5 linked regions of the Homo sapiens genome follow. The protein of the gene in region 1 purifies or fractionates together with the protein of each later gene. This does not show direct contact. Each region holds a gene or a part of one and is shown in the gene's direction. Other genes may lie near its edges.

Region 1 (4,601 bases):
TAGTTACAACATTTCACCTAGTTACACCACTTCACCTAGTTACAACACTTCACCTAGTTACAACACTTCATCTAGTTACAACACTACTTTAAACACTGTACGTAGATGTAACACTACTTTTTTTTTTTTTTTTTTTTTTTTTTTGAGACGGAGTCTCGCTCTGTCGCCCAGGCTGGAGTGCAGTGGCGGGATCTCGGCTCACTGCAAGCTCCGCCTCCCGGGTTCACGCCATTCTCCCGCCTCAGCCTCCCGAGTAGCTGGGACTACAGGCGCCCGCCACCACGCCCGGCTAGTTTTTTGTATTTTTAGTAGAGACCGGGTTTCACCGTGTTAGCCAGGATGGTCTCGATCTCCTGACCTCGTGATCCACCCGCCTCGGCCTCCCAAAGTGCTGGGATTACAGGCGTGAGCCACCGCGCCCGGCCGATGTAACACTACTTTAAACACTTTACCTAATTGGGTAAAGATATCCACGTAGCCAATATCACTCACTCCAAATCCCGACTGCCATGTAAATAGGAATGAAGGATATTTCCATTATTCCAGTGGTCCAAGAATCATCTGAAACCTGCCAGTCTTGTTGCTTCCCTTCTCTTCCCGTTCCTGCCCTGAGACATTCTGGGGCTGCTTGAGAACCACATTTATCTGCACAAATGTTTATCAGGGTAAATCAGGCCAAATGCATCTCCTTAAATATCCTGCCTTAAATATCCTGATCATTAAGAGGAAAATCTCTGGTTTCTACCCTCTCAGTGGTTGCTTCACCCCCAGCCCAGCCACCTTCCTGTATTTGTTCACAAGGAGGTGATGCCACTGCAGAGTGAACTGGCCCAGCAAAATGCCCTCCAGGAGTGCTGACTCATCAGGCCACTTCCCGCCACTGCAAGGAAGATGTGCAGGCATGGCTGTGGCTGTGTAAACCTGGCAGCAGAGTACGCACATGAGCTTTGAGGGAATTGTTGGGTGACAGAAATTCCTGTCCAACTAGAAGGAAAGGGGAATCTATTATAAGGGCTCTGGTCACTTGGGCCTCCTGGATCCCAAGGACAGAGCTGTAGCTGCTCTCGTCCACAGATTCCCATCTGCTCCTTTCTGCCTCTTGGCTCTGTTCTCTCTCACTGCTTGCCAGGGACTGGATCCCCTAGATCCAGAATTTCCAACCAAGGGATCTGATTGGTTCAGATCATTTCTGTTTTCCAACCCTGCTTGAGGATGCGGAGTGGGCAGGAGAACGAGAGCACTGTTCGCATGAGTCCGCCATGTGAGGGCAAGGCAGGGGGTGAGCGGCATGTGACCACTTTCCAGACAAAACCACCTTTCCAGAATGATGAGGTTCCCAAGCCTTCATAAAAGCAACCTGCATGTGCGGGAAGAGGGCTGCCTCATCCCTGCCCAGGCTTGCCTCTGCACACCCCTTCCCGACACCAGCCCTTTCTTTACTCAGTGACCTTGAGCTGCTAATCTGACCAAAGTGCAGGACGTCCTTTGTCCTAATTACAGGTGGGTGGACTCATAGTCCTCAGGCCTAGGTGACCATGTGGTTTACCATCTCCGTCTTAATACCATGCCAGTATGACGGGCCTGTATCCTGGGGTGCGTGGTCCCAGCAGAGCCACGCTGAGCTCTCTGCTCTGCTTCTCCTGTCCCCCTTGGGTCGGCCGGCCACGTGGAGCCCGCTTTCCTCCTCGCACCCACTCCACTCCCATAACCCGGTGGCTGGGTAGGCTAAGACCTGGCCTTTCTATAATGGCCTTTCTTTTGTTTCACTTCATTTCACTCCATTTCCCTACTTTCCCTTTTTTTCTGATAGTTTGTCCAGAGGGTCTGCATTATAAGTTATTCTTTTATTCAACATTAATAAAAATTTCATTCATCACTACTGCACTACTAATATCAGAGCCCACCACTCACTGAGCATTGATTCTGTTTTGGGCACTGTGGTGTGTCTTCGAATCCTCACCAGGATGCTGTGAGCTGTGAACTATTAGTAGCCCTATTTGATGAATCAGGAAAAAGGAGGCACAGGGAGGTCAAGTAACTTGCCAATGTCACACAGCAGCAGGTCGTGGAGCTTGGGTTTCAATGCCAAGTCCTGAGTTTGTTTTATATGGAAAGCACAAGAGACATTGGCTTCCACCTTTGGTAACAGATGATTGCCTATGTTTATTTCCCTTCCCAGGCGGTAACACTGGATGTAATGTTAGGGCATCTATGGGATAGGGAGATCTTAGCGCTGGTCTAAGGAATACAAACATGACTTTAGTTGGTGTCTAAATCCATAGATGCTCAGCACCGAACTCAGTCTGACTTCCAGATGCTAACAACACACCCCAGGCAGGCGAAGGGGCATGCTTTTCCATACTCTTCCTTTTGACTGGCTTGATCACAGACTGCTGCTCCAAAGCTGGTGTTACGCACAGCTCCTCGTCCCCTCCCTGCCTGCCCAGGGCCAGCATCAGGGGCTGTCATCACTGGGGGATGCAGAGCTACCTGTAACAGCAACAAGGACCATTGTCAACTCCGTTCCCGTCTGACACCCACACTGCACCTTTCAGAGCTGACCATAAGGGTTACCCTCACCTGCCCAGCTGCCAGGGAAGAGGAGGGCTGTGGGCTTCATTCCGAATCACCAGATAAACTAAACTAGGAAACCTGAGGCGAGCCGCAGCCTCAGTTTCTCTTTGGTGTTGCCGCCCACAGTTCCCGCTGTACTGGTTCAGCGTGCCAGCCATCCTGAAGGGCTGGATGGATAGGGTGCTGTGCCAGGGCTTTGCCTTTGACATCCCAGGATTCTACGATTCCGGTTTGCTCCAGGTATGTGCTCTTGGATAAGGATCACTATGGATAGTTGGAGGGAGGGGACAGAGGATGCGTCTTCTATCAAGTTATATTTCTAGTTTCCTTCCTTTTCTTAGCAAATATCGATTGAGCACCCACTATGTACAAAGCACCATGTGCTGCACACGGGTGGACACAGCATCGTTTCTGAAATCATGGAGCTTTTTGTCTGGTGGGGCTGCGAACACATCCACAGCATACTACACGCATGGCAAACAAGGGAGTGGGTCAGGTGTCAGGTGACGGGGGACCTGGGCAACCTTATGTGGGCAACCCGGTGGCCAGCCCTGGCTCCAGAGAGAGTATCTCCCTGGTGCAGAGCCCAGCCCTGGCCTGGCACAAGTTCACCCCCTTGAGCATCATGTGCCTGCTGTGAGAAAAGACCATGCGACACCCACGTGGCAGGATGAGGAGGGCATGGAATCTGGTAGATGTGCCACATGTGGTAGCTATGAATTCTTACTAAAACAATGATTTTTAAGGCTGGGTGCAGTGGCTCACGCCTGTAATCCCAGCAATTTGGGAGGCCGAGGAGGGTGGATCACTTGAGGCCAGGAGTTCAAGACCAGCCTGGCCGACATGGTGAAACCCCATCTCTACTAAAAATACAAAAATTAGCCGGGCATGGTGGTAGGCGCCTGTAGTCCCAGCTACTTGGGAGGCCGAGGCAGGAGACTGGTTTGAACCTGGGAGGTGGAGGTTGCAGTGAGCCAAAATCGCACCATTGCATTCCAGCCTGGGTGACAAAGCGAGACTCTGTCTCAAAAAAAAAAAAAAAAAAAAGGAACGATTTTTAAATTCTAAAAGCTTCAGAAAATAAATGCACGTAAGGGAAACATACTGAGTAACCAAGATGTGTCTTGGACCATGAATGGTGCTACCACTTACTGAGCAGCCCTGTGTGCTGGGAACCTTGTCCTGTGGTCAGTGCCTCGGCCGTATCCATCACACATGGTGTCATGGAAACCAGGTTTCCACCAGCAACCTGGGCATGTTAGAGCTTCTGTGTCTGCTTGGTCCATTCACTTGGATTGTCTCCTCCTCCTCTTGGGATGTCATTGTCACCTATGGATGGGAGTGTTGCATTTGTCCATCCCTGGAGGGTGTCCACACGCATGTTCCCTGCTGGCTGTGCTGAGCCCGTGTGCTGGAGGCTCAGCAACATTTCTGTCCTCTTCTGGAGTCCACACAAATGCATCTGCTTTCTCCCTTGCAGGGTAAACTAGCGCTCCTTTCCGTAACCACGGGAGGCACGGCCGAGATGTACACGAAGACAGGAGTCAATGGAGATTCTCGATACTTCCTGTGGCCACTCCAGGTAGACCAGCTGCGAGTGGCTCCCTTGCTTGTTGGCACACGCACACACAGACACACACATGCACACATGCATACACACACACACGCACACACATACATGCCCTCAGCTCCCCGAGGGGTGAGATGAGATGGGATGGAAGCGTGATGCCCCACACCATTTTGACTCCCCTGGATACAAGAAAATTATAACATTTTGCCCCTTTTAAATGCTTTACTTGACAGATTTGAAAAGCTTGACCAATAGGGAAAACATGCCCTAATTATAGCTTTTGATATGGTTTGGGCAGAAGCTAAGCCAAACCTGCTTAGCTTGGTCAGCAGAATGGCCCCAAGGTGGCCCTGCGTGTGTTGTGATACGTGCGGGTGGAGGCCATCCATATGGCTCTGGCAGTGCTTGGTGAGGGCAGCACTGCCCTTGGACCCTGGCAAGTGGCACCCCAGGCCCT
Region 2 (4,601 bases), on another chromosome or scaffold:
TTGAAAGAAAATGGCCTTTCCCAAAGCCTCTCTGCTGGGTGAAGCCATCCAAAACATTTTATTTTTCTAAGGGAAAAACAACTCTGCCTCCATGCACACCATCTATTGTTTTGCATTTAGTAGGCCTGTGAAATGCCTGATTGGAGGAAGGTCCAGCCCCCAATGTTCTGTATCATAGCCTTGATGGAGTAGCCTCCCCCATTTCTGGTGTGGTTGGGTATAGCCCCTGCCTTCACTCTGCTTCCCCTGCCCAGGGGAATGCAGAGGAAGGGATGGCGCCTTTCAGGCCTGCAGTGAGTCATCTCTGCCTGAACCAAGCCCATTCATGCTCCATCGCCTTCTAGAATATGAAGTCCTCGTGTGTGGGAGGAAAGCTCTGTTCCCTTCCCAACATACATTCCTTTTCCTTAGCATGGATGTGGCCCTTCATTAAAAGAGATCAGTTCAGTCCCCTGCTCCCTGCCTGTGCTTTTTCTAGCATGTGATCCGAGGGAACCGCCCCATCAAAACTGAGATGGCCCATCAGCTATATGTCCTTCAAGTCCTAACCTTTAACCTTCTGGAAGAAAGGATGATGACCAAGATGGACCCCAATGACCAGGTAGGTGCTAAGTGGGGCAGCTGTTTTCTCATGGCTGTGGTGCAGTCCAGCCTTAGTCTATGTGCCAGGCACTGTGCTTGGTCTTTGTCTGCAGAAGTAGTTTGCATCTGCCCTAGAAAATCTAGCATGATCTGCACCATGAGCCAAGCCCATTTCTGTCCTGCTGTGGTAGAGGTGATGCCTCCTAAGGGATTGATTGGGGCCAAAGTTTGGCCCAGAAAAGCCTGACCCACTGTTTCTTTTCCTTGCTCCCTTGGTTAGCCGATTCACCTGCTGACTGTCTGTTTCACCTCGCAGGCTCAAAGGGACATCATATTTGAACTGAGGAGGATTGCATTTGACGCAGAGTCTGATCCTAGCAATGCCCCTGGGAGTGGGACCGAAAAACGCAAAGCCATGTACACAAAGGACTACAAAATGCTGGGATTTACCGTAAGTACCTCAGAGCATAGACGGTGGTAGGCCCTCTCCCCTGATGGGAAGTCAATGGTCCCACCCAGACAGAGCTCTGACAACCAACCCCATGGTGGCCCTGGAATAGATGACAGTTAGGAAGCTGGTGGAGCTTTAATGCTTGCTTTGCTTTGTTGATGGTGAGTCTGTGAGTTTATGTGCAAAGTTTGGCCCTGTGAAACGAATCCATCTGTAGGGGGGTTGCGGTCAGCTAGAGTGGGTAGAGAGGGGACCTGTCCTCTTACCCAAACTGCTAGGTTCTTTGCAAAGCTAGTGTGAATATTTTGTGATAGAGTAGGGCTTGAGGATGGGGTTAACTGGAAGAAGTATTTCTTGCGTACCTACTCAGTGTGCAGCAGCATGTGAAGTAGGTTCTGGGATGCATGGTGAGGCAGCCACCGTCCAGCACTCAAGAGCTCACAGTTCAGTGGTGGTGATGGGTGTGAAAAGAGCTAGGACAGAGGTGGGTGCTGAGTGGTAGCAGCATCAAGAGGAGAGGCGAGAGGGCATCCCCTCAGGTCCCTGCATACACGGAGACTGCCGCATCTCAAATTGGGTGTCTTTATTTCTCTAGAACCACATCAATCCAGCCATGGACTTTACCCAGACTCCTCCTGGAATGCTGGCCTTGGACAACATGCTGTACTTGGCTAAAGTCCACCAGGACACCTACATCCGGGTAAAGGCAGGGGAGCTGGCCTTCTCAGTCCTGGTGCCACATCTCCTGCCTTCCTCCTTCATCTCCCTAATCCTCCCTTTCTCTTCCCCCGACAGATTGTCTTGGAGAACAGTAGCCGGGAAGACAAACATGAATGCCCCTTTGGCCGCAGTGCCATTGAGCTCACCAAAATGCTCTGTGAAATCCTGCAGGTTGGGGAACTACGTAAGTCTCTGCAGCTCCCTCTTCTTCAGCCATTCCTTGTCATCAAGAGCTCAGTGAGACTCAAAATTATAAACAGTTACATGTCAGTGGGGTCGGGCGTGGTGGTTCACACCTGTAATCTCAGCACTTTGGGAGACTGAGGCAGGAGGATCACTTGAGCCCAGGAGTCCAAAACCAGTCTGGGCAACATAGTGAGACCCCATCTCTAAAAAAAAAAAAAAAAAAAAAAAAAACCAAAAATTAGCCAACTGGTAGTGCATGCCTCTGGTCCCAACTACTCAGGAAGCTGAGGCAGGAGGATCACTGTGTCAGGAGGTCAAGGCTATGGTGAGCATAGTCATGCCACTGCATTCCAGCCTGGGCGACAGAGTGAGACTCTATCTTAAAAAAAAAAAAAAAAAAAAGATGTCAGTGGGACTAGACAACCTTAGGTGGGTTTTTAATTTTGTTTTTTGTTTTAAATCACTGCATCAGCTGATAATTCCATCTTATCCTTATTTATGGGAATCATGGTTGTTGCTTTGTTTGAACTGGCAATTTGAATCATATTCCAAAGCTACCCCATGCCTGTGGGTAAGGGCTGGCTGAGTCTGTAACAGGGTAGAGGGAAGGCAAGAAAATGCACCCTGGAGAAGAAAGCTAAGGACGTGAGAAACGCCCATCCCACGCTCCCTGTTAATTGCGCGCCTTAGGCTGCTTTTGTTCCTCGGGACTTTGGTGCAAAGTTTCCAGACATGAGCTCCCAGGCCCTTGTGGACAGAGGCTTCATCTTCTCCCTGTTTTTTCACTTCCACAGCAAATGAAGGACGCAATGACTACCACCCGATGTTCTTTACCCATGACCGAGCCTTTGAAGAGCTCTTTGGAATCTGCATCCAGCTGTTGAACAAGACCTGGAAGGAGATGAGGGCAACAGCAGAGGACTTCAACAAGGTCAGTGTCTCCGGGCTGCTCTGAGGCCCACGGGAGGAGACCATCACACGACAGCCTTTGACAGCTGGCTGGCACCTGGAGAATCCCTGAGCTGGAAAAGCAGCTTGGTCTGCAGAACTGAGTCACAAGACTGAGGCACTGGGGAGCCTCAGCCCCATCTGGTTGTTGCTCCCTCTGTGACCTTGAGCTTGTCTTCCACTTGGTGCCGTAGGCCCTCATTTGTCCATTGAAGTTAGCACCTGTCCCTCCCGTCCTCCAGAGAGGTCAGGAGGATAAGCATTAGAAGACTCACTGTGGTTTATTGAGTGCTTACTGTGCAGGTACTGCTGTAGTTTTGTGAACTGGGAAGGTTAGGAGAGAAGAGTGGACTGGCATGATGTGCACACCCTGGGTACTTAATCGATAGTTATCCCTCGGTGCTTTCAGTCCTCACTCTATGCAGAGCACTGTTGTGCCAGGCCCTCAAAAGCTGATCATCTAGGGGTCGAGTGTTTTGAAGTTGATCATCTCATCATAAAAAATTTGGAAAGTATAAAGAATAAAAAGTTACCTGTATTTACACCATCCAGTGACAAACATTTTTGTTTTCCTCTAGTCTTTTTTATCCCCTACAGGTTTTTCCTTCATTAGCAAGATCATACTGCGCATGCAGTGTGGTATCCTGTTGTTTTCTTTAATAGTTGTTTTAAGGGGACCAATGCATTTTTTTAAAACACCACAGCGTGCCAGAACTGCGCTTGCCTTTCTATTCTTTTGTTTGTTTTTTTGAGACAGAGTTTCACTCTTGTCACCCAGGCTGGAGTGCAGTGGCACTGTCTCGGCTCACTGCAACCTCCACCTCCGAGGTTGAAGTGATCCTTCTACTTCAGCCTCCTGAGTAGCTGGGACTACAGGCGTGAGCCACCACACCTGGCTAATTTTTGTATTTTTAGTAGAGACGGGGTTTCACCATGTTGGCCAGGCTGGTCTCAAACTCCTGACCTCAGGTGATCCGCCTGCCTCAGCCTCCCAAAGCATGAGCTACTGCAACCGGCTGGTATCTCATATTCTTTATGGCAACACCTATCAGGAGATGTGTCTTCCTTTCTCTCGGTTTAGAGATGAGTAGATGCACACCTAAGGATGTTAAGTGACTTGCTGAAGGGACAGAGTCAAGATGTGAACCCATTTCTTTCTGACTACAAAAATCCATGCTCATTTCCCCCACACCATTGACCAATTGAAATATATGGGAAATAAAGCATCTATCAGTGTCAGTCATGTGACCTGAATAACCATCTAAGAAGGTATACCTTACTCACCCAGCAGATGTCTGTAGTGCCTGCCCTGCTCAAGACCCTGGGGCAGGAAAGAGCCTTGGTGCTCCATAATAGGCCTGTCCATTTCTCAAGAGTAGTGGTGTGAGTTGGCTGGGTTCTTCTCCTCTTAGGTTATGCAAGTCGTCCGAGAGCAAATCACTCGAGCTTTGCCCTCCAAACCCAACTCTTTGGATCAGTTCAAGAGCAAATTGCGTAGCCTGAGTTACTCTGAGATTCTACGACTGCGCCAGTCTGAGAGGATGAGTCAGGATGACTTCCAGTCCCCGCCAATTGTGTAAGTTCCATCTCAGGGGAGGCTGGCGGGGGAGGTGGCTGCCAGCTCTGCTTTCCTTCCAGAGCTCCACTGTCCCCATGACCTTCCGCTCACTCCAGTGTGTGTCCACCCCAGGGAGCTGAGGGAGAAGATCCAGCC
Region 3 (5,048 bases), on another chromosome or scaffold:
TAGCCCCAATTCACCATGGTCCTCATGACAGAGAGACTAACTCTATTGTATTGAATCAAATTTCCAGTCACGTATTGTGTCCTTTATACATTCAAGTTATAATGTGTATAAATGCATGGCAAAAGGGCCAAAGGAGCCCTAATGTAAAAACATTGGCAATAAAACTGTTGAGACAAACCAAGAATCCAGGTTGCCAGGGTCAGCAGTTTTAACATTGTTTTATGGTACATTGTGTACTTTTCCTTCTTACTGATATGCATTGCACTGTGACCTTTGCAGAGTCCTATCCTGCCCTGCATTTTTCACAGAGTTGCTCTCAGTCTCAAATAAGATACCATATGCATGTGAAAGGGCTTTTGAAATGGAAAAGCAGTAGAAAGTTGAAAGTAAAATGGTCTCTTTCTCTCTAGGGCATCAAGGCATCTCACAGAGCACACTTTAGCTACTGGGAGGATTGACCTTGGGTGAAATTTCAGTATGTAAAGCTTGTTTGGGGTTATCTTACATAATTTTTTCTTTCCTTGTGCTATACACACACACACACATATATGTGCATATATGTACAATGCACATATATACACACACACATATGGCACCTAGTATATGCTTGGTGCTATGCTAGGTGCTGGGGAGACAGTGAGAACAACCCAGGTGCCCAGGACCTGTCCTCACAGCCCACCTAATCCTTTTAAGTCTTTACATACCTCCCATCCCCCACCCCCATGCTCCTTACTCATGGTATTCAACCCAACTGATTGACTTATTTATTGTTATTTATATGCTTATATATTTATAGATTTATCATTTTATCAAGATTTTTACGAAGATACTCAATTGGAGGTTCCTAATTCTGGAGAAATTTCCATTTTACAAATATATTCTTGGAGAGGGCATGATTATGGACCTGTCACATTTGAGTACTGTGGCAGTTAGAAGGAGGGCAATTTTGGGAGGCCCTTCCAGGCTATGTCCTTCCAGCTATTAATGAGGTTCTGTTTCAGAGCAGACCATATTACACGGTGTTATTAATAAATCTGGCGAGTGGTTATAAGGGTGTGTGTATCGGAATAATCCATTAAGCTGTACATTGGTTTTATATGGCTGTCTATATTTGTGTTTTATTTAACAGTAACAGTTAACAATAACAGTTAAAAATAAGTATCACTTCTTTTAAAATTCACACAACTTCTTGGGCTGAGTGAAATGTGGCGCAGGTGCAGGACTGTGGGAAGACAGGAGCGCCAGGGAATGTCTGGCCAGCAGCGCGCTGCCCTCAAGGGGCCTCCTTGAAGGCCCCTTGAAGAGGGCAACACAACTAATGACGATAACAATAACAACGATGACAATATTGACGATGACAATAACAGTAATAAATCCGAGCAAGAGACTCGAATCTGTCAAACAGCAGCGACCACCACGAATCGCATCCCCGCGGCGCCGCCATACAGGAGACTGCCCTCGCCGAGGCCACAGCGGCTCTCGCGGCGCCCCTGGAGGCCCCCTTCCTGCCTTGGCCAGAGGGGCGGGGCGTAGGCTGGGGGCGGGGCCGGAGAGTGGGCGGGGCCTGGCGCGTGGGCGGGGCTCCGGGCGGGCCGGCCGCCGAGGGTGGGGCCGAGGAGGAGGAGGAGGAGGAGGAGAAGGAGGTAGGGGCCTGCGGGTGGCTGGGCGGGGCGCGCTCGGGCCTCCGCTCTTCACGCGCCGCATTCGTAGCCCGAGAGTCCGCGCCGCGGGGAGGCTTGGAGGCAAGCGCTGCCCGCGAGCTGAGCCGCCGGAGGAGGAGCCGCGGGCAACGAGGTAGGCAAAGGAACACTGGCCGCACGGCCTGGAGCCTTCAGCTCCCTCGTCCCGGCCCGAGGGGGTGGCGAGGCTCGGGGCGGCGCGCGGAGGCCGGGGCGGGCGGGGCCGGGACCTGGGGGCGGGGACCGGCCTGGCCAGAGGGGCCACACGGAGCTGATTGGGCTGTGGAAGTCGGAATTCCAGTCGGTGCGGTGCGGTGCGGTGCGTTGCCTCGGCGCGGCCGGCCGGTCCCGGGACACGGCACCAGGGAGGTGTGGAAATTGCCTGCCCCAGGGGCGCCCGCGGAGGAGGGTAGGCGGGGGCGGCCTGGGCCCTCCCACTTTTCAGGGCTCCTGGGCCAGTTCGCCCGCACAGCCCTCGGGAACTTGTTAACAGGAAAGCCTGGCAGAGAAACAAATGCCAGCGTTTTGGAAGAACTGAGAGTCACGTCGTTAGGCGCTGAGGCTTTCTTTTCCTTCCCCGCCCCCTGCCCAACCTCGGCCCGACTTGGCCAAAGAAGGATGTGTCACCAGCTCCGGGCCGCGGACGGGATTCCCGGCCCGCCAGGAGCCGGGGTACCTGAAACAAAGGTAAACGGAGGCCGGGCGGCCCCTGGTCCTGCACCGCGGCCGCGCTGGAGCGCCTCGGTGGGTCTCTCCCGCGCCGACCTGGCCGCCGCCGCCGCGGAGGGGCGTTCTCCTGGGGGACCTCTCGATGGAAACCAGCTGGCCGGGCTTGGAGTTGATGTTGCATCCGAACTCTGTTGTGCTCCCGTTATTCCCAGTCCTCCCACTCTGGTAAAGCTTAAGGAAATTTTATCCAGTCTTGGTGGTCAGCAAATGTAGGGGAAGACAAATTATTGTTTGTAAATTATAAGGTATTTTCTAATTAGGAAATGGCCTGAAAACATTAAATTCTTAACACGTAAGCAAAAAAAGAGTAATTCCTTCCAACATCTGAGGAAGTATTCCTCCTCAAATCTTCATTTATGTACAAAACATCCCCCACACCTTTGGTGCCAGGCATTTTTCTTTGTTCTTCCTTAGTCTCAGGCCTTAGTTTCTTGTAAACAGAACCCAGCGCCTAGACCCTAAGAATTGCCATACTAGGTCAGAGCATGGGCGTCCAGTTCAGTAGGCAGCCGGCTTGTGTTGTAGTAAAACTGTTGTTTTTTTTTCTTGGTGGTATGTTAAAAATTATCTCAGTTTCTTTCAGTAGTCCATGAAAGCCTTTTAAAAATTTTCTAAGCCACTGCTAATTTACACACACAATTTATTTACATTTATTGCATCCAAATGGCCCTTTTATCACCTCTGGCAGAAGAACTTAATGGCATGAGATACTTGTGGAAAAAAACTTAGATCTTTTATACAATCTAGGAGCTCAGAAATCTAGGAGATTTCTAGGAGAACGGGGAAACAGATCAAAAAGGTTTTTAAAAAACAAAGCTTTGGGAAAGTGTTACTGGGGCCAATCTGGCTGTTGAGTTCAAAAATAGCTTTATGCACTGACAACCTGAACATTGAGCAGTTAAAGATTTATTTGTACTCATAAGTATTTGCATATTTTAAAATGTAGCTTAACATTCTGGAGAGTGAAGGGCCTATCTGACTTTATCTTGGGCTGAATTAATTTGGCCTTAATGTTCAGCTGAAACCAGCTACTCTGAGAGAATGGAAGTTTTGTTTCAGCGAGAAAGGAAAAAAGGAAATGAATAATTTTGGAGTATAGGGTACTTGGGGGCACCTGTTCAAATCATAACTTTGCTTTTAAACTCTTCAGAGACTCCTCCTTGCTCCTGACAAACATAGTCCCCACTGATCTGGCCCCTGTTACCTTTCAAACACACAGCTGAAGCTTCACCTCTGCCCTGAAGCTTTGCTTGACACCCCCCATCCCCCAAAAAGAAAACAGATATTTAAAAATCACCACCCTCAGAAGTGCAATTGACAGCTCTTTTGAGTGTTATCGTCCTCTGAGTCAGAGTTTCTCATTTGTAGTTCTGTTGACATTTTAGGCCAGGTAATTTCTAGTTGTGGAGGGCTATCATGTGCAGCGTAGGATGTTTAGCAGCATTTCTAACCTTTACTGAGGAATAGATACCAGTAGCACTCCACACACACAGTTGTGAACATCAAAAATGCTTACAGACATCGCAAATGTCCCCCAGGAGGACCAAAATCACCCTTAGTTAAGAACCACTGTTGTGAGCAGACTGCTGCCTTAACACTAGTGACGCAGCATTGTCCTCATTTGCTTAGGTGTTTACTATACTAAGCTTGAGGGCGGGAACAGTTATTTATTTAACAGATTTCTGAAGGCCTGTTTTGCCAACTGGACACTAGATTAGGTATGGAAATAGATTAGTAAAAACAACTTTGCATGCCTGGACCTTATAGTCTAAGGAGGGTGACAGATGTATACATGCATAAATATACATTTATCTCATTACGATTGTGTTAATTTCTGGGAGAAGTACAGGCAGCTCTGAGTGCATAAAACAGATGTCCTGATGTAGTTTGGAAACTGGGGAAAGTTTCCATGGGGAAGTGACCTTTGAGGTGGACGGTGAAGGATTAACAGGAGTTACTAGGTGAAGCTCACGGGAACAATATTCCGGGCAGAAGGAACAGATGTGAATACCTTGAGGAAGAAAGGAACAGGGCCGCTTTTGGGAACCCAGAAGCCAGGAACACGGAGAGTGATGACACAAAATGAAGCTAGGAAAATAGGCAAAGGCTGTCCACTAAGCAGTGGTTCTCAGTCCAACACTCTCATCAGAACCACCAGAACTTAAGACCGACGCCTGGGCCCTCCTCCAAGCAAATCAGAGCATTTTTGGTGGGTTCTGCTCCCTCCCCCAGCTACCATTTTCCCTGTCTTCCAAAGGAATAACCACTGATACTAGTTTTGTATATCATTGTAGACATTTTTTGTGGGCATTCAAGGAAATGCATATCTTTCCTCTTACTGTTTTACACAAATGGTAGCATACTGTACACTCTGTTTTCTTAAAAATGTCTTGGGAATCTTTCCACTTCAGTATATAGTTTCCTTATTTTTTTGAATGACTGTACAGTATTTCACTGTATGGATATACCATAGATTATTTAACCATTCCCCCACTGACAGACATTTAGATTGTTTCCAGTAATTTACCGTAAACAGTGCTACGAATATGCTGTTTCATATGTGAATAAATATATTTATAGGGTAAATTCCTAGAAATGGAATTGTTGGGTGAAATAAACACACAAACACATATATTTACA
Region 4 (2,563 bases), on another chromosome or scaffold:
ACAAAAAAAGCCTTCTCTTCATTGTAGATTATGTATAACAGAGAAAACCAACTACTGATTTTTGATGTAATCAGTGGAATGTCGTACTGCCATTAGAAATGTGTGATTATTTTGTAAAATCAGAGAAACATACTTGCCTATTGGACAATGTCTAGTAAGCCCCTGTCATGTGCTGAAGATACAGTGGTGAGCAAGCTAGACAGGTCCTTGCTTGCACTGAGCCAAGTGTCAGGGAGAAGACAGACAGCCAAATGGGCAGGAACCCTAGGAGACAAGTGGGCTATGCGGGAAAAGCCAGCCCTTTGGGGGTATGGGGAGTGGGACAAGAAAGGCTTCCTGGGGAGAGGATGGTAATCCTGAGGCCTAGAGGACGGCTAGATGTTGGCAGGAAAAGGGGAGAGGGGTGTTCTGTGCAAAAGGGACAGTATGTTTAAGAATGGGCATGGGGCCGGGCGCAGTGGCTCACACCTGTAATCCCAGCACTTTGGGAGGCCGAGGCAGTTGGATCACGAGGTCAGGAGGTCGAGACCATCCTGGCTAACACGGTGAAACCCCGTCTCTACTAAAGATACAAAAAAATTAGCGGGCATGGTGGCGGGTGCCTGTAGTCCCAGTTACTCGGGAGGCTGAGGCAGGAGAATGGCGTGAACCCGGGAGGCAGAGCTTGCAGTGAGCCCAGATCGCGCCACTACATTCCAGCCTGGGTGACAGAGCGAGACTCCGTCTCAAAAAAAAAAAAGAGTGGGCGTGGCAAAGCCTGATCAGAGAGGGGGCAGTGGTGAGATGAGGCCCAAGGGGGTCAGCTTATGTGGGGCTGTGCACACCCTGAAAGTCAGAAGCTTAGACCTTATTCTAAGGGTAGCAGGAGGCCGTTATAACCAAGAAAAGCTGTTAGCATCTGTGCTTGGGAAGTCTCCCCTGTGGCTGCAGTATAGAGAATGGATTGAAGGAGGGCAGGAGTGGAAGTCAGGAGACCAGTGGGGAGGCTGTTGCAACCATCCAGGTGAGAGATGAGGGTGGCCTGGACCTGGGCGGAGGCTGTAGAGAGAAGAGGGACAGATTGAACAGCAAGTGAAGAGGTAGGAATGACAGGGCCAAGAGGGCTGTGAACGTGGGACACAGAGAGGAGCAGAGCAGGCGAACCCCACATTCTGGTTTGGGCAAAGTGCAACTTTTGGTGCTATTCACAATGACAGGCAGTGCTGGAGGGGGAGTAGGTTTGCGGGGAGAATGCTGAGTTCATTCTGGGACACAGAGTTTTGAAGTACCTACCTGATGTATTCTCCAGGAGGCAGGTGGAGATTTTGAGTCAGCTCTCAGCATGCAGGCTGTCCAGGGAGTGTGTGCTGTAAAGAGGGAAGAGGCCCATGACATTTAAATATTGGGGGCAGGTAGAGGAACAAGAGAGGGATGTGCAAAGGACAGGGTTTGCAAGAGACAGATGGCAACAAAACGTCAGCTGCAGTTGACTCCAGGCTGAGGGATTACAGTTGATTTTCTTTTCCTTTTTTTTTTTCTTTGAGACAGAGTCTCACTGTGTTACCCAGGCTGGAATGCAGTGGCGTAGTCTCAGCTCACTGCAACCTCCACCTCCCAGGTTCAAGTGATTCTCCTGCCTCAGCCTCCCAAGTAGCTGGGATTACAGGCGTGTCACCATGCCCAGCTAATTTTTGTGTTTTTAGTAGAGACAGGGTTTCGCCATGTTGGTCAGGCTGGTCTCAAACTCCTGACCTCAGGTGATCTGCCCATCTTGGCCTCCCAAAATGCTGGAATCACAGACATAAGCCACCATGCCCAGCCTTCTTTTCTTTTTTGTTTTCAGATTTCCCCCCTAGTTTTCTATAATAATAATAGCAGACATTAGTTGAGCTCATAGTACATGCCAGATACTGTTCCAAGAACTTTTATAACTCTTCTAAGTGTCCACAATAAGCCTAGAAGGTAGGTTCTGTTGTTATTACCATTTTACAGATGAAGAAACAGCACAGAGGGGTTAAGACACATGTCCCCAGCTACACAGGGTGCAGCCATTGGGAGGCCTGACTGGAATCCAGGCTGCCTGATTCCAGAGCCTGTGCACTCACTACATGACGCTGTCTCTCCACAGGATGTTGTTAATGTTTTTATAATCAGGAAAATATTGATTTTTCAAAAACGGAAGTAAGAGGTTAGAGAAATAGTGCTTTGATCTGCTAGGATATTAGAAATGGAAGGATTTGTATCTGCAAAATCAGTGGCTGCCTTCGAAGTTTGTTGAGAGCAGGCTGGGTTGGCTGCTTCATGGTGTTGGAACACGGATGAGGCTCATTCTCACACAACTCATTTTTCCTCAGGTGCCTGTGCTTCCCGGTGCCAGGGTGTCATGGAAGGGCTGCTGACAAGATGCAGAGCATTGCCCGCCCTGGCCACCTGCAGCCGCCAGCTCTCTGGGTATGTTCCTTGCAGGTTTCACCACTGTGCCCCAAGAAGAGGGCGGCGCCTGCTGCTGTCTCGTGTGTTCCAGCCACAGAACCTTCGGGAAGACCGGGTGCTCTCCCTGCAGGACAAATCTGATGACCTGACC
Region 5 (4,351 bases), on another chromosome or scaffold:
CCCGGCATGCTGGGCCCCGCACAGCCATGGGCAGACATGTTTCCCGCTGCATCCTCTCAACGTGGAGCAGGCAATGTGGGCCCCATGTCCTAGTTGAGGACACCTCATGGTTAGGGTAGTTTCTCTCAGCTAAATAGCAAGTTAGGATTAGAGTCCAAGTCCTCTGGCTGAGAAGCCCACCCGCCTCCACACCCCCTGTGCCCCCAAGTACCAGCAGTCCTCCAAAGCATGTCTTGCTCAGGGGCATTGACCCCAAAGTCAGACCACCTGTGTGGGTTCCCCGGCTGCCACACCAGCTCCCATGTGACCCCTGGGCTTCGGTTTCCTGTGTCTAAAGTGGGCCAGGTGTTGGGCCCTGCCTCGAGGAGTGCTGTGGGCCTGCAGGGTCCTGTTGAGTTCGAAGCTCTGAACCCACACCCTGCACTTGGTGAATGCCCTGGAGGGCCGGCGAGGTGGGGGGTCTCCTCATCCCAGAGAGGTACAAATGGGTCAGAAGAGCCCAGGGCAGGAGGCTGCGGAGGGGCTGGTCCATCTCTCCCACACCATGAGACCCCATTTTGCGTCTCCCCGCCCCATGCCACCTGCAGACAAGGTGAACCGGGATTCCGTGCGCTCCATCCAGAAGAGCATCTTCACCGTGTGCCTAGATGCAACCATGCCCAGGGTCTCAGAAGACGTGTACCGCAGCCACGTGGCAGGCCAGATGCTGCATGGGGGCGGCAGCAGGCTCAACAGCGGCAACCGCTGGTTCGACAAGACGCTGCAGGTGAGGCCCGGCAGGGCTTCGCCCACTCACACACACCTGAACAGGACCTCTGCAGCCTCGGGACTTCCTGCCCGTCCCCGGCCCTGCGTCCCCAGCCTCCTAGCTTGTAAAGCAGGCAGGAAGCCAGCAGGCTGGACGCTGCCGTAATTACCAGGCAGCCAGCCTGTCATCACCAGTCCTGCCTCTGGCCTGGAAACCGCTGTCACCCCCAGCACACCCCCTCAGCACCTCACAGAGAACCTGGGATCCGGGGTCACCAGTGCAATCCTGGCACAACAGTCCCTCTCCACACCTGTAAAATGGGGTGATGGTCAACCTCACCGGTAGAGTAGTTTGAAGGACTCAGTCAGGCACGCTGAGCGTGGGATGTGCTTAGCACACCAGGGCACCTGGTGAGTGTCAGCTATTGTTAATAACAGTAATAAGTCATCATAGCCCCTTGAGATGGCTTCAGAGAGGCCCTTGCCTCAACCAAAGAGTGGTTGGGTGAGGGGCCACCCCCCAGGGCCCTGGGGCTGACCGGGGTCTCCCTTCCCTTCCACAGTTCATCGTGGCAGAAGATGGCTCCTGTGGGCTTGTGTACGAGCATGCTGCAGCGGAGGGGCCCCCTATTGTCACCCTTCTGGACTATGTCATCGAGTACACGTGAGTACAGTCACATCTCTCGCCTAGTTCCCCAGCTTCTAGTGACAGGTGACACACAGGTGATAGACCAGCTTATAGAGAAATATCACTCTCCTTTGTGCCTGGGAATCTGTTTTTTTCCAAGGAAGCCAGCCAGATATGGTGGCTCACGCCTGTAATCCTGACACTTTGGGAGGCTGAGGTGGGAGGATCAATTGAGGTCAGGAGTTTGAGATCAGCCTGGCCAACATGGTGAAATGCCATCTCTACTAAAAATACAAAAAAAAAAAAAATTACCCAGGTGTGGTATCACATGCCTATAATCCCAGTTACTCAGGAGGCTGAGGCAGGAGAATTGCTTGAACCCAGGAGGCAGAGGTTGCGTTGAGCGGAGACTGTGCCACTGCACTCCAGCCTGGGTGACAGAGCAAGACTCTGTCTCAAAAAAAAAAAAAAAAAATTAGGCCAGGTGCAGTGGCTCATGCCTATAATCCCAGCACTTTGGGAGGCGGATCACCTGAGGTCAGGAGTTCAAGACCAGCCTGGCCAACATGGTGAAACCCTGTCTCTACAAAAATTAGCCAGGCATGATGGCGGGTGCCTGTAATCCCAGCTACTTGGGAGGCTGAGGCAGGAGAATCGCTTGAACCCGGGAGGCAGAGGTTGCAGTGAGCTGAGATCACACCATTGCACTCTAGCCTGGGTGACAGAATGAGACTCTGTTTCAAAAAAAAAAAAAAAAAAGTTAGCCACGCGTGGTGGTGGGTGCCTGTAATCCCAGCTACTCAAGAGGCTAAGGCACAAGAATCACTTGAACCCAGGAGGTGGAGGTTGCAGTGAGCCGAGATCGTTCCATTGCTCCAGCCTGGGTGACAGAGCAAGACTCTGTCTCAAAAGAAAAAGAAAAAAATTAGCCAAGGTGGCGGGCATCTGTAATCCCAGCTACTCAGGAGGCTGAGGCAGGAGAATCGCTTGAACCAGGGAGGCCAAGGTTGCAGTGAGCTGAGATCACATCACTGCACTCCAGCCTGGGCAACAGAGCAAGACTCCATCTAAAAAAAAAAAAAAAAGAAAAAAGAAAAAAAAGCTGAAGTGAGGGTGGTTTTCAGAACAAACTCACACCTCCCTGGGCTGGCCCCCTCCAGCTTCAGGTACCCATCCTCCCCACCCTGGTCCCAGAATGGACCCAGGCTCTAGAGGCACCAGCATGAGCCTGAGGCCCCGTTTACTGTGCAGGAAGAAACCCGAGCTTGTGCGGTCTCCCCTGGTGCCCCTGCCCATGCCCAAGAAGCTGCGGTTCAACATCACCCCCGAGATCAAGAGCGACATCGAGAAGGCCAAGCAGAACCTCAGCATGTAAGTGCCTGCCCCCGCCATCCCTGTGCTGGATGGGTGAGGCCAGGCCCTTGAGCTTGAGAGGCTCCTGTGCCAGCTCTGTCATGACACCCAGACCCTCCGTGGGGTTGGCAGGGGCTGCCGGGGCCTGCTCCTCACCTGCTCTTCCCACACCCCCAGCATGATCCAGGACCTGGATATCACCGTGATGGTGTTCCACCATTTTGGAAAAGACTTCCCCAAGTCGGAGAAGCTAAGCCCAGATGCCTTCATCCAGATGGCTTTGCAGCTGGCCTACTACAGGTGCGCCTCTGTGGCCCACCCATGGAGGAGGGAGGAGACCTGGGGGCAGGGGAGGGGGTGCCCGCCTCCAAGGGGCGTGCTTAGCCCCATTTCCCACCAGGATCTACGGACAGGCATGTGCCACCTATGAAAGTGCCTCCCTGCGCATGTTTCACCTGGGCCGCACCGACACCATCCGCTCGGCTTCCATGGACTCACTCACCTTTGTCAAGGCCATGGATGACTCCAGCGTCACGGTGAGAGGTCTGGGGCGAGGGTGGGTGAGCTGGGCCTGAGCCCCTCCCTCCTGCTCACTCAGTCAACACACAATAATTGAGCACCTACAGGATTCCAGCCCCATGGTGGGCACGGGGAATCTAACAGAAGCTGGAGCCGTGAATCTAGCTCTGAGCTTCCTGGGGACCAAAGAGGAAAAGGGAGTCATTCATTTGTTCATTCATTTATTCATTGGCAGTAAGCAACTGCCCTATGTCAGGCCCTGGCTGAGGACCAAGGAGTTGGTAGTTGCAATACTCGCTCTTTTTTTTTCTTGTTTTTTTTTAGAAAGAGTCTCACTCTGTTGCCCAGGCTGGAGTGCAGTGGTGTGATCTCGACTCACTGCAACCTCCACCTCCCGGGTTCAAGCAATCCTCCTGCCTCAGCCTCCCAAGTAGCTGGGACTACAGGTGCCTGCCACCATGCCCGGCTAATTTTTGTATTTTTAGTAGAAACGGGATTTCACCATGTTGGCCAGGCTGGTCTCAAACTCCTGACCTCAAGGGATCCACCTGCCTCGGCCTCCCAAAGTGCTGGGATTACAGGCGTGAGCCACCGCTCCCAGCCCCAATATTTCCTCTTAAAGAGCTCAGAATCTAGTGCTGGGTGGGGGTGGGCTACTGAGGTGGGCCAGAAGAGAAGGGACAGTGCTTCAGCTCCCTCTGACCCTCACCACTCTAGGAGCACCAGAAGGTGGAGCTGCTGCGGAAGGCCGTGCAGGCCCACCGAGGCTACACCGACCGGGTAAGTGAGCCCGCTTGTGCCTACTCACTTGTCCCTTAGTGTCAGCCATCTGTCTGTCCCTCTGACTGTCCGTCCCTGCAGCCAATGGCTGCCAACCCTTTGCTAGGACCACATCTCCCCCAACCTGGGAGCACCTGGAGCCAGGCTGAATAGCCCCCAACTTTTTCTTTTTTTTTTTTTTTGAGATGGAGTCTTGCTCTGTCGCCCAGGCTGGAGTGCAGTGGTGTGATTTAGGCTCACTGCAACCTCCGCCTCCCAGGTTCAAGCAATTCTCCTGCCTCAGCCTCCCAAGTAGCTGGGATTACAGGCACCCACCACCACACC

The links.
Region 2: the proteins of NQO2 (region 1) and ELMO2 fractionate together in Homo sapiens (co-fractionation; one large-scale study listed by BioGRID). This does not show direct contact.
Region 3: the proteins of NQO2 (region 1) and PPP2R3A purify together in Homo sapiens (co-immunoprecipitation; one large-scale study listed by IntAct). This does not show direct contact.
Region 4: the proteins of NQO2 (region 1) and PARS2 purify together in Homo sapiens (affinity purification with mass spectrometry; one large-scale study listed by BioGRID and IntAct). This does not show direct contact.
Region 5: the proteins of NQO2 (region 1) and CRAT fractionate together in Homo sapiens (co-fractionation; one large-scale study listed by BioGRID). This does not show direct contact.

Annotation. Positions count from the first base shown.
Region 1 is NC_000006.12:3,012,830-3,017,430, forward strand, and holds part of NQO2 (ribosyldihydronicotinamide dehydrogenase [quinone]), read left to right. Parts: intron 1-2,700; coding exon 2,701-2,814; intron 2,815-4,054; coding exon 4,055-4,156; intron 4,157-4,601. UniProt on the Homo sapiens protein: The enzyme apparently serves as a quinone reductase in connection with conjugation reactions of hydroquinones involved in detoxification pathways as well as in biosynthetic processes such as the vitamin K-dependent gamma-carboxylation of glutamate residues in prothrombin synthesis.
Region 2 is NC_000020.11:46,371,668-46,376,268, reverse strand, and holds part of ELMO2 (engulfment and cell motility protein 2), read left to right. Parts: intron 1-478; coding exon 479-601; intron 602-898; coding exon 899-1,033; intron 1,034-1,628; coding exon 1,629-1,733; intron 1,734-1,828; coding exon 1,829-1,937; intron 1,938-2,733; coding exon 2,734-2,870; intron 2,871-4,299; coding exon 4,300-4,463; intron 4,464-4,577; coding exon 4,578-4,601. UniProt on the Homo sapiens protein: Involved in cytoskeletal rearrangements required for phagocytosis of apoptotic cells and cell motility. Acts in association with DOCK1 and CRK. Was initially proposed to be required in complex with DOCK1 to activate Rac Rho small GTPases.
Region 3 is NC_000003.12:135,964,056-135,969,103, forward strand, and holds the start of PPP2R3A (serine/threonine-protein phosphatase 2A regulatory subunit B'' subunit alpha), read left to right. Parts: upstream 1-1,672; 5' UTR 1,673-1,794; intron 1,795-1,942; exon of another isoform or gene 1,943-2,573; intron 2,574-5,048. UniProt on the Homo sapiens protein: The B regulatory subunit might modulate substrate selectivity and catalytic activity, and might also direct the localization of the catalytic enzyme to a particular subcellular compartment.
Region 4 is NC_000001.11:54,758,961-54,761,523, reverse strand, and holds part of PARS2 (probable proline--tRNA ligase, mitochondrial precursor), read left to right. Parts: intron 1-2,333; 5' UTR 2,334-2,362; coding exon 2,363-2,563. UniProt on the Homo sapiens protein: Mitochondrial aminoacyl-tRNA synthetase that catalyzes the specific attachment of the proline amino acid (aa) to the homologous transfer RNA (tRNA), further participating in protein synthesis.
Region 5 is NC_000009.12:129,096,926-129,101,276, reverse strand, and holds part of CRAT (carnitine O-acetyltransferase), read left to right. Parts: intron 1-587; coding exon 588-766; intron 767-1,310; coding exon 1,311-1,411; intron 1,412-2,626; coding exon 2,627-2,746; intron 2,747-2,905; coding exon 2,906-3,028; intron 3,029-3,128; coding exon 3,129-3,264; intron 3,265-3,964; coding exon 3,965-4,027; intron 4,028-4,351. UniProt on the Homo sapiens protein: Catalyzes the reversible transfer of acyl groups from carnitine to coenzyme A (CoA) and regulates the acyl-CoA/CoA ratio. Also plays a crucial role in the transport of fatty acids for beta-oxidation.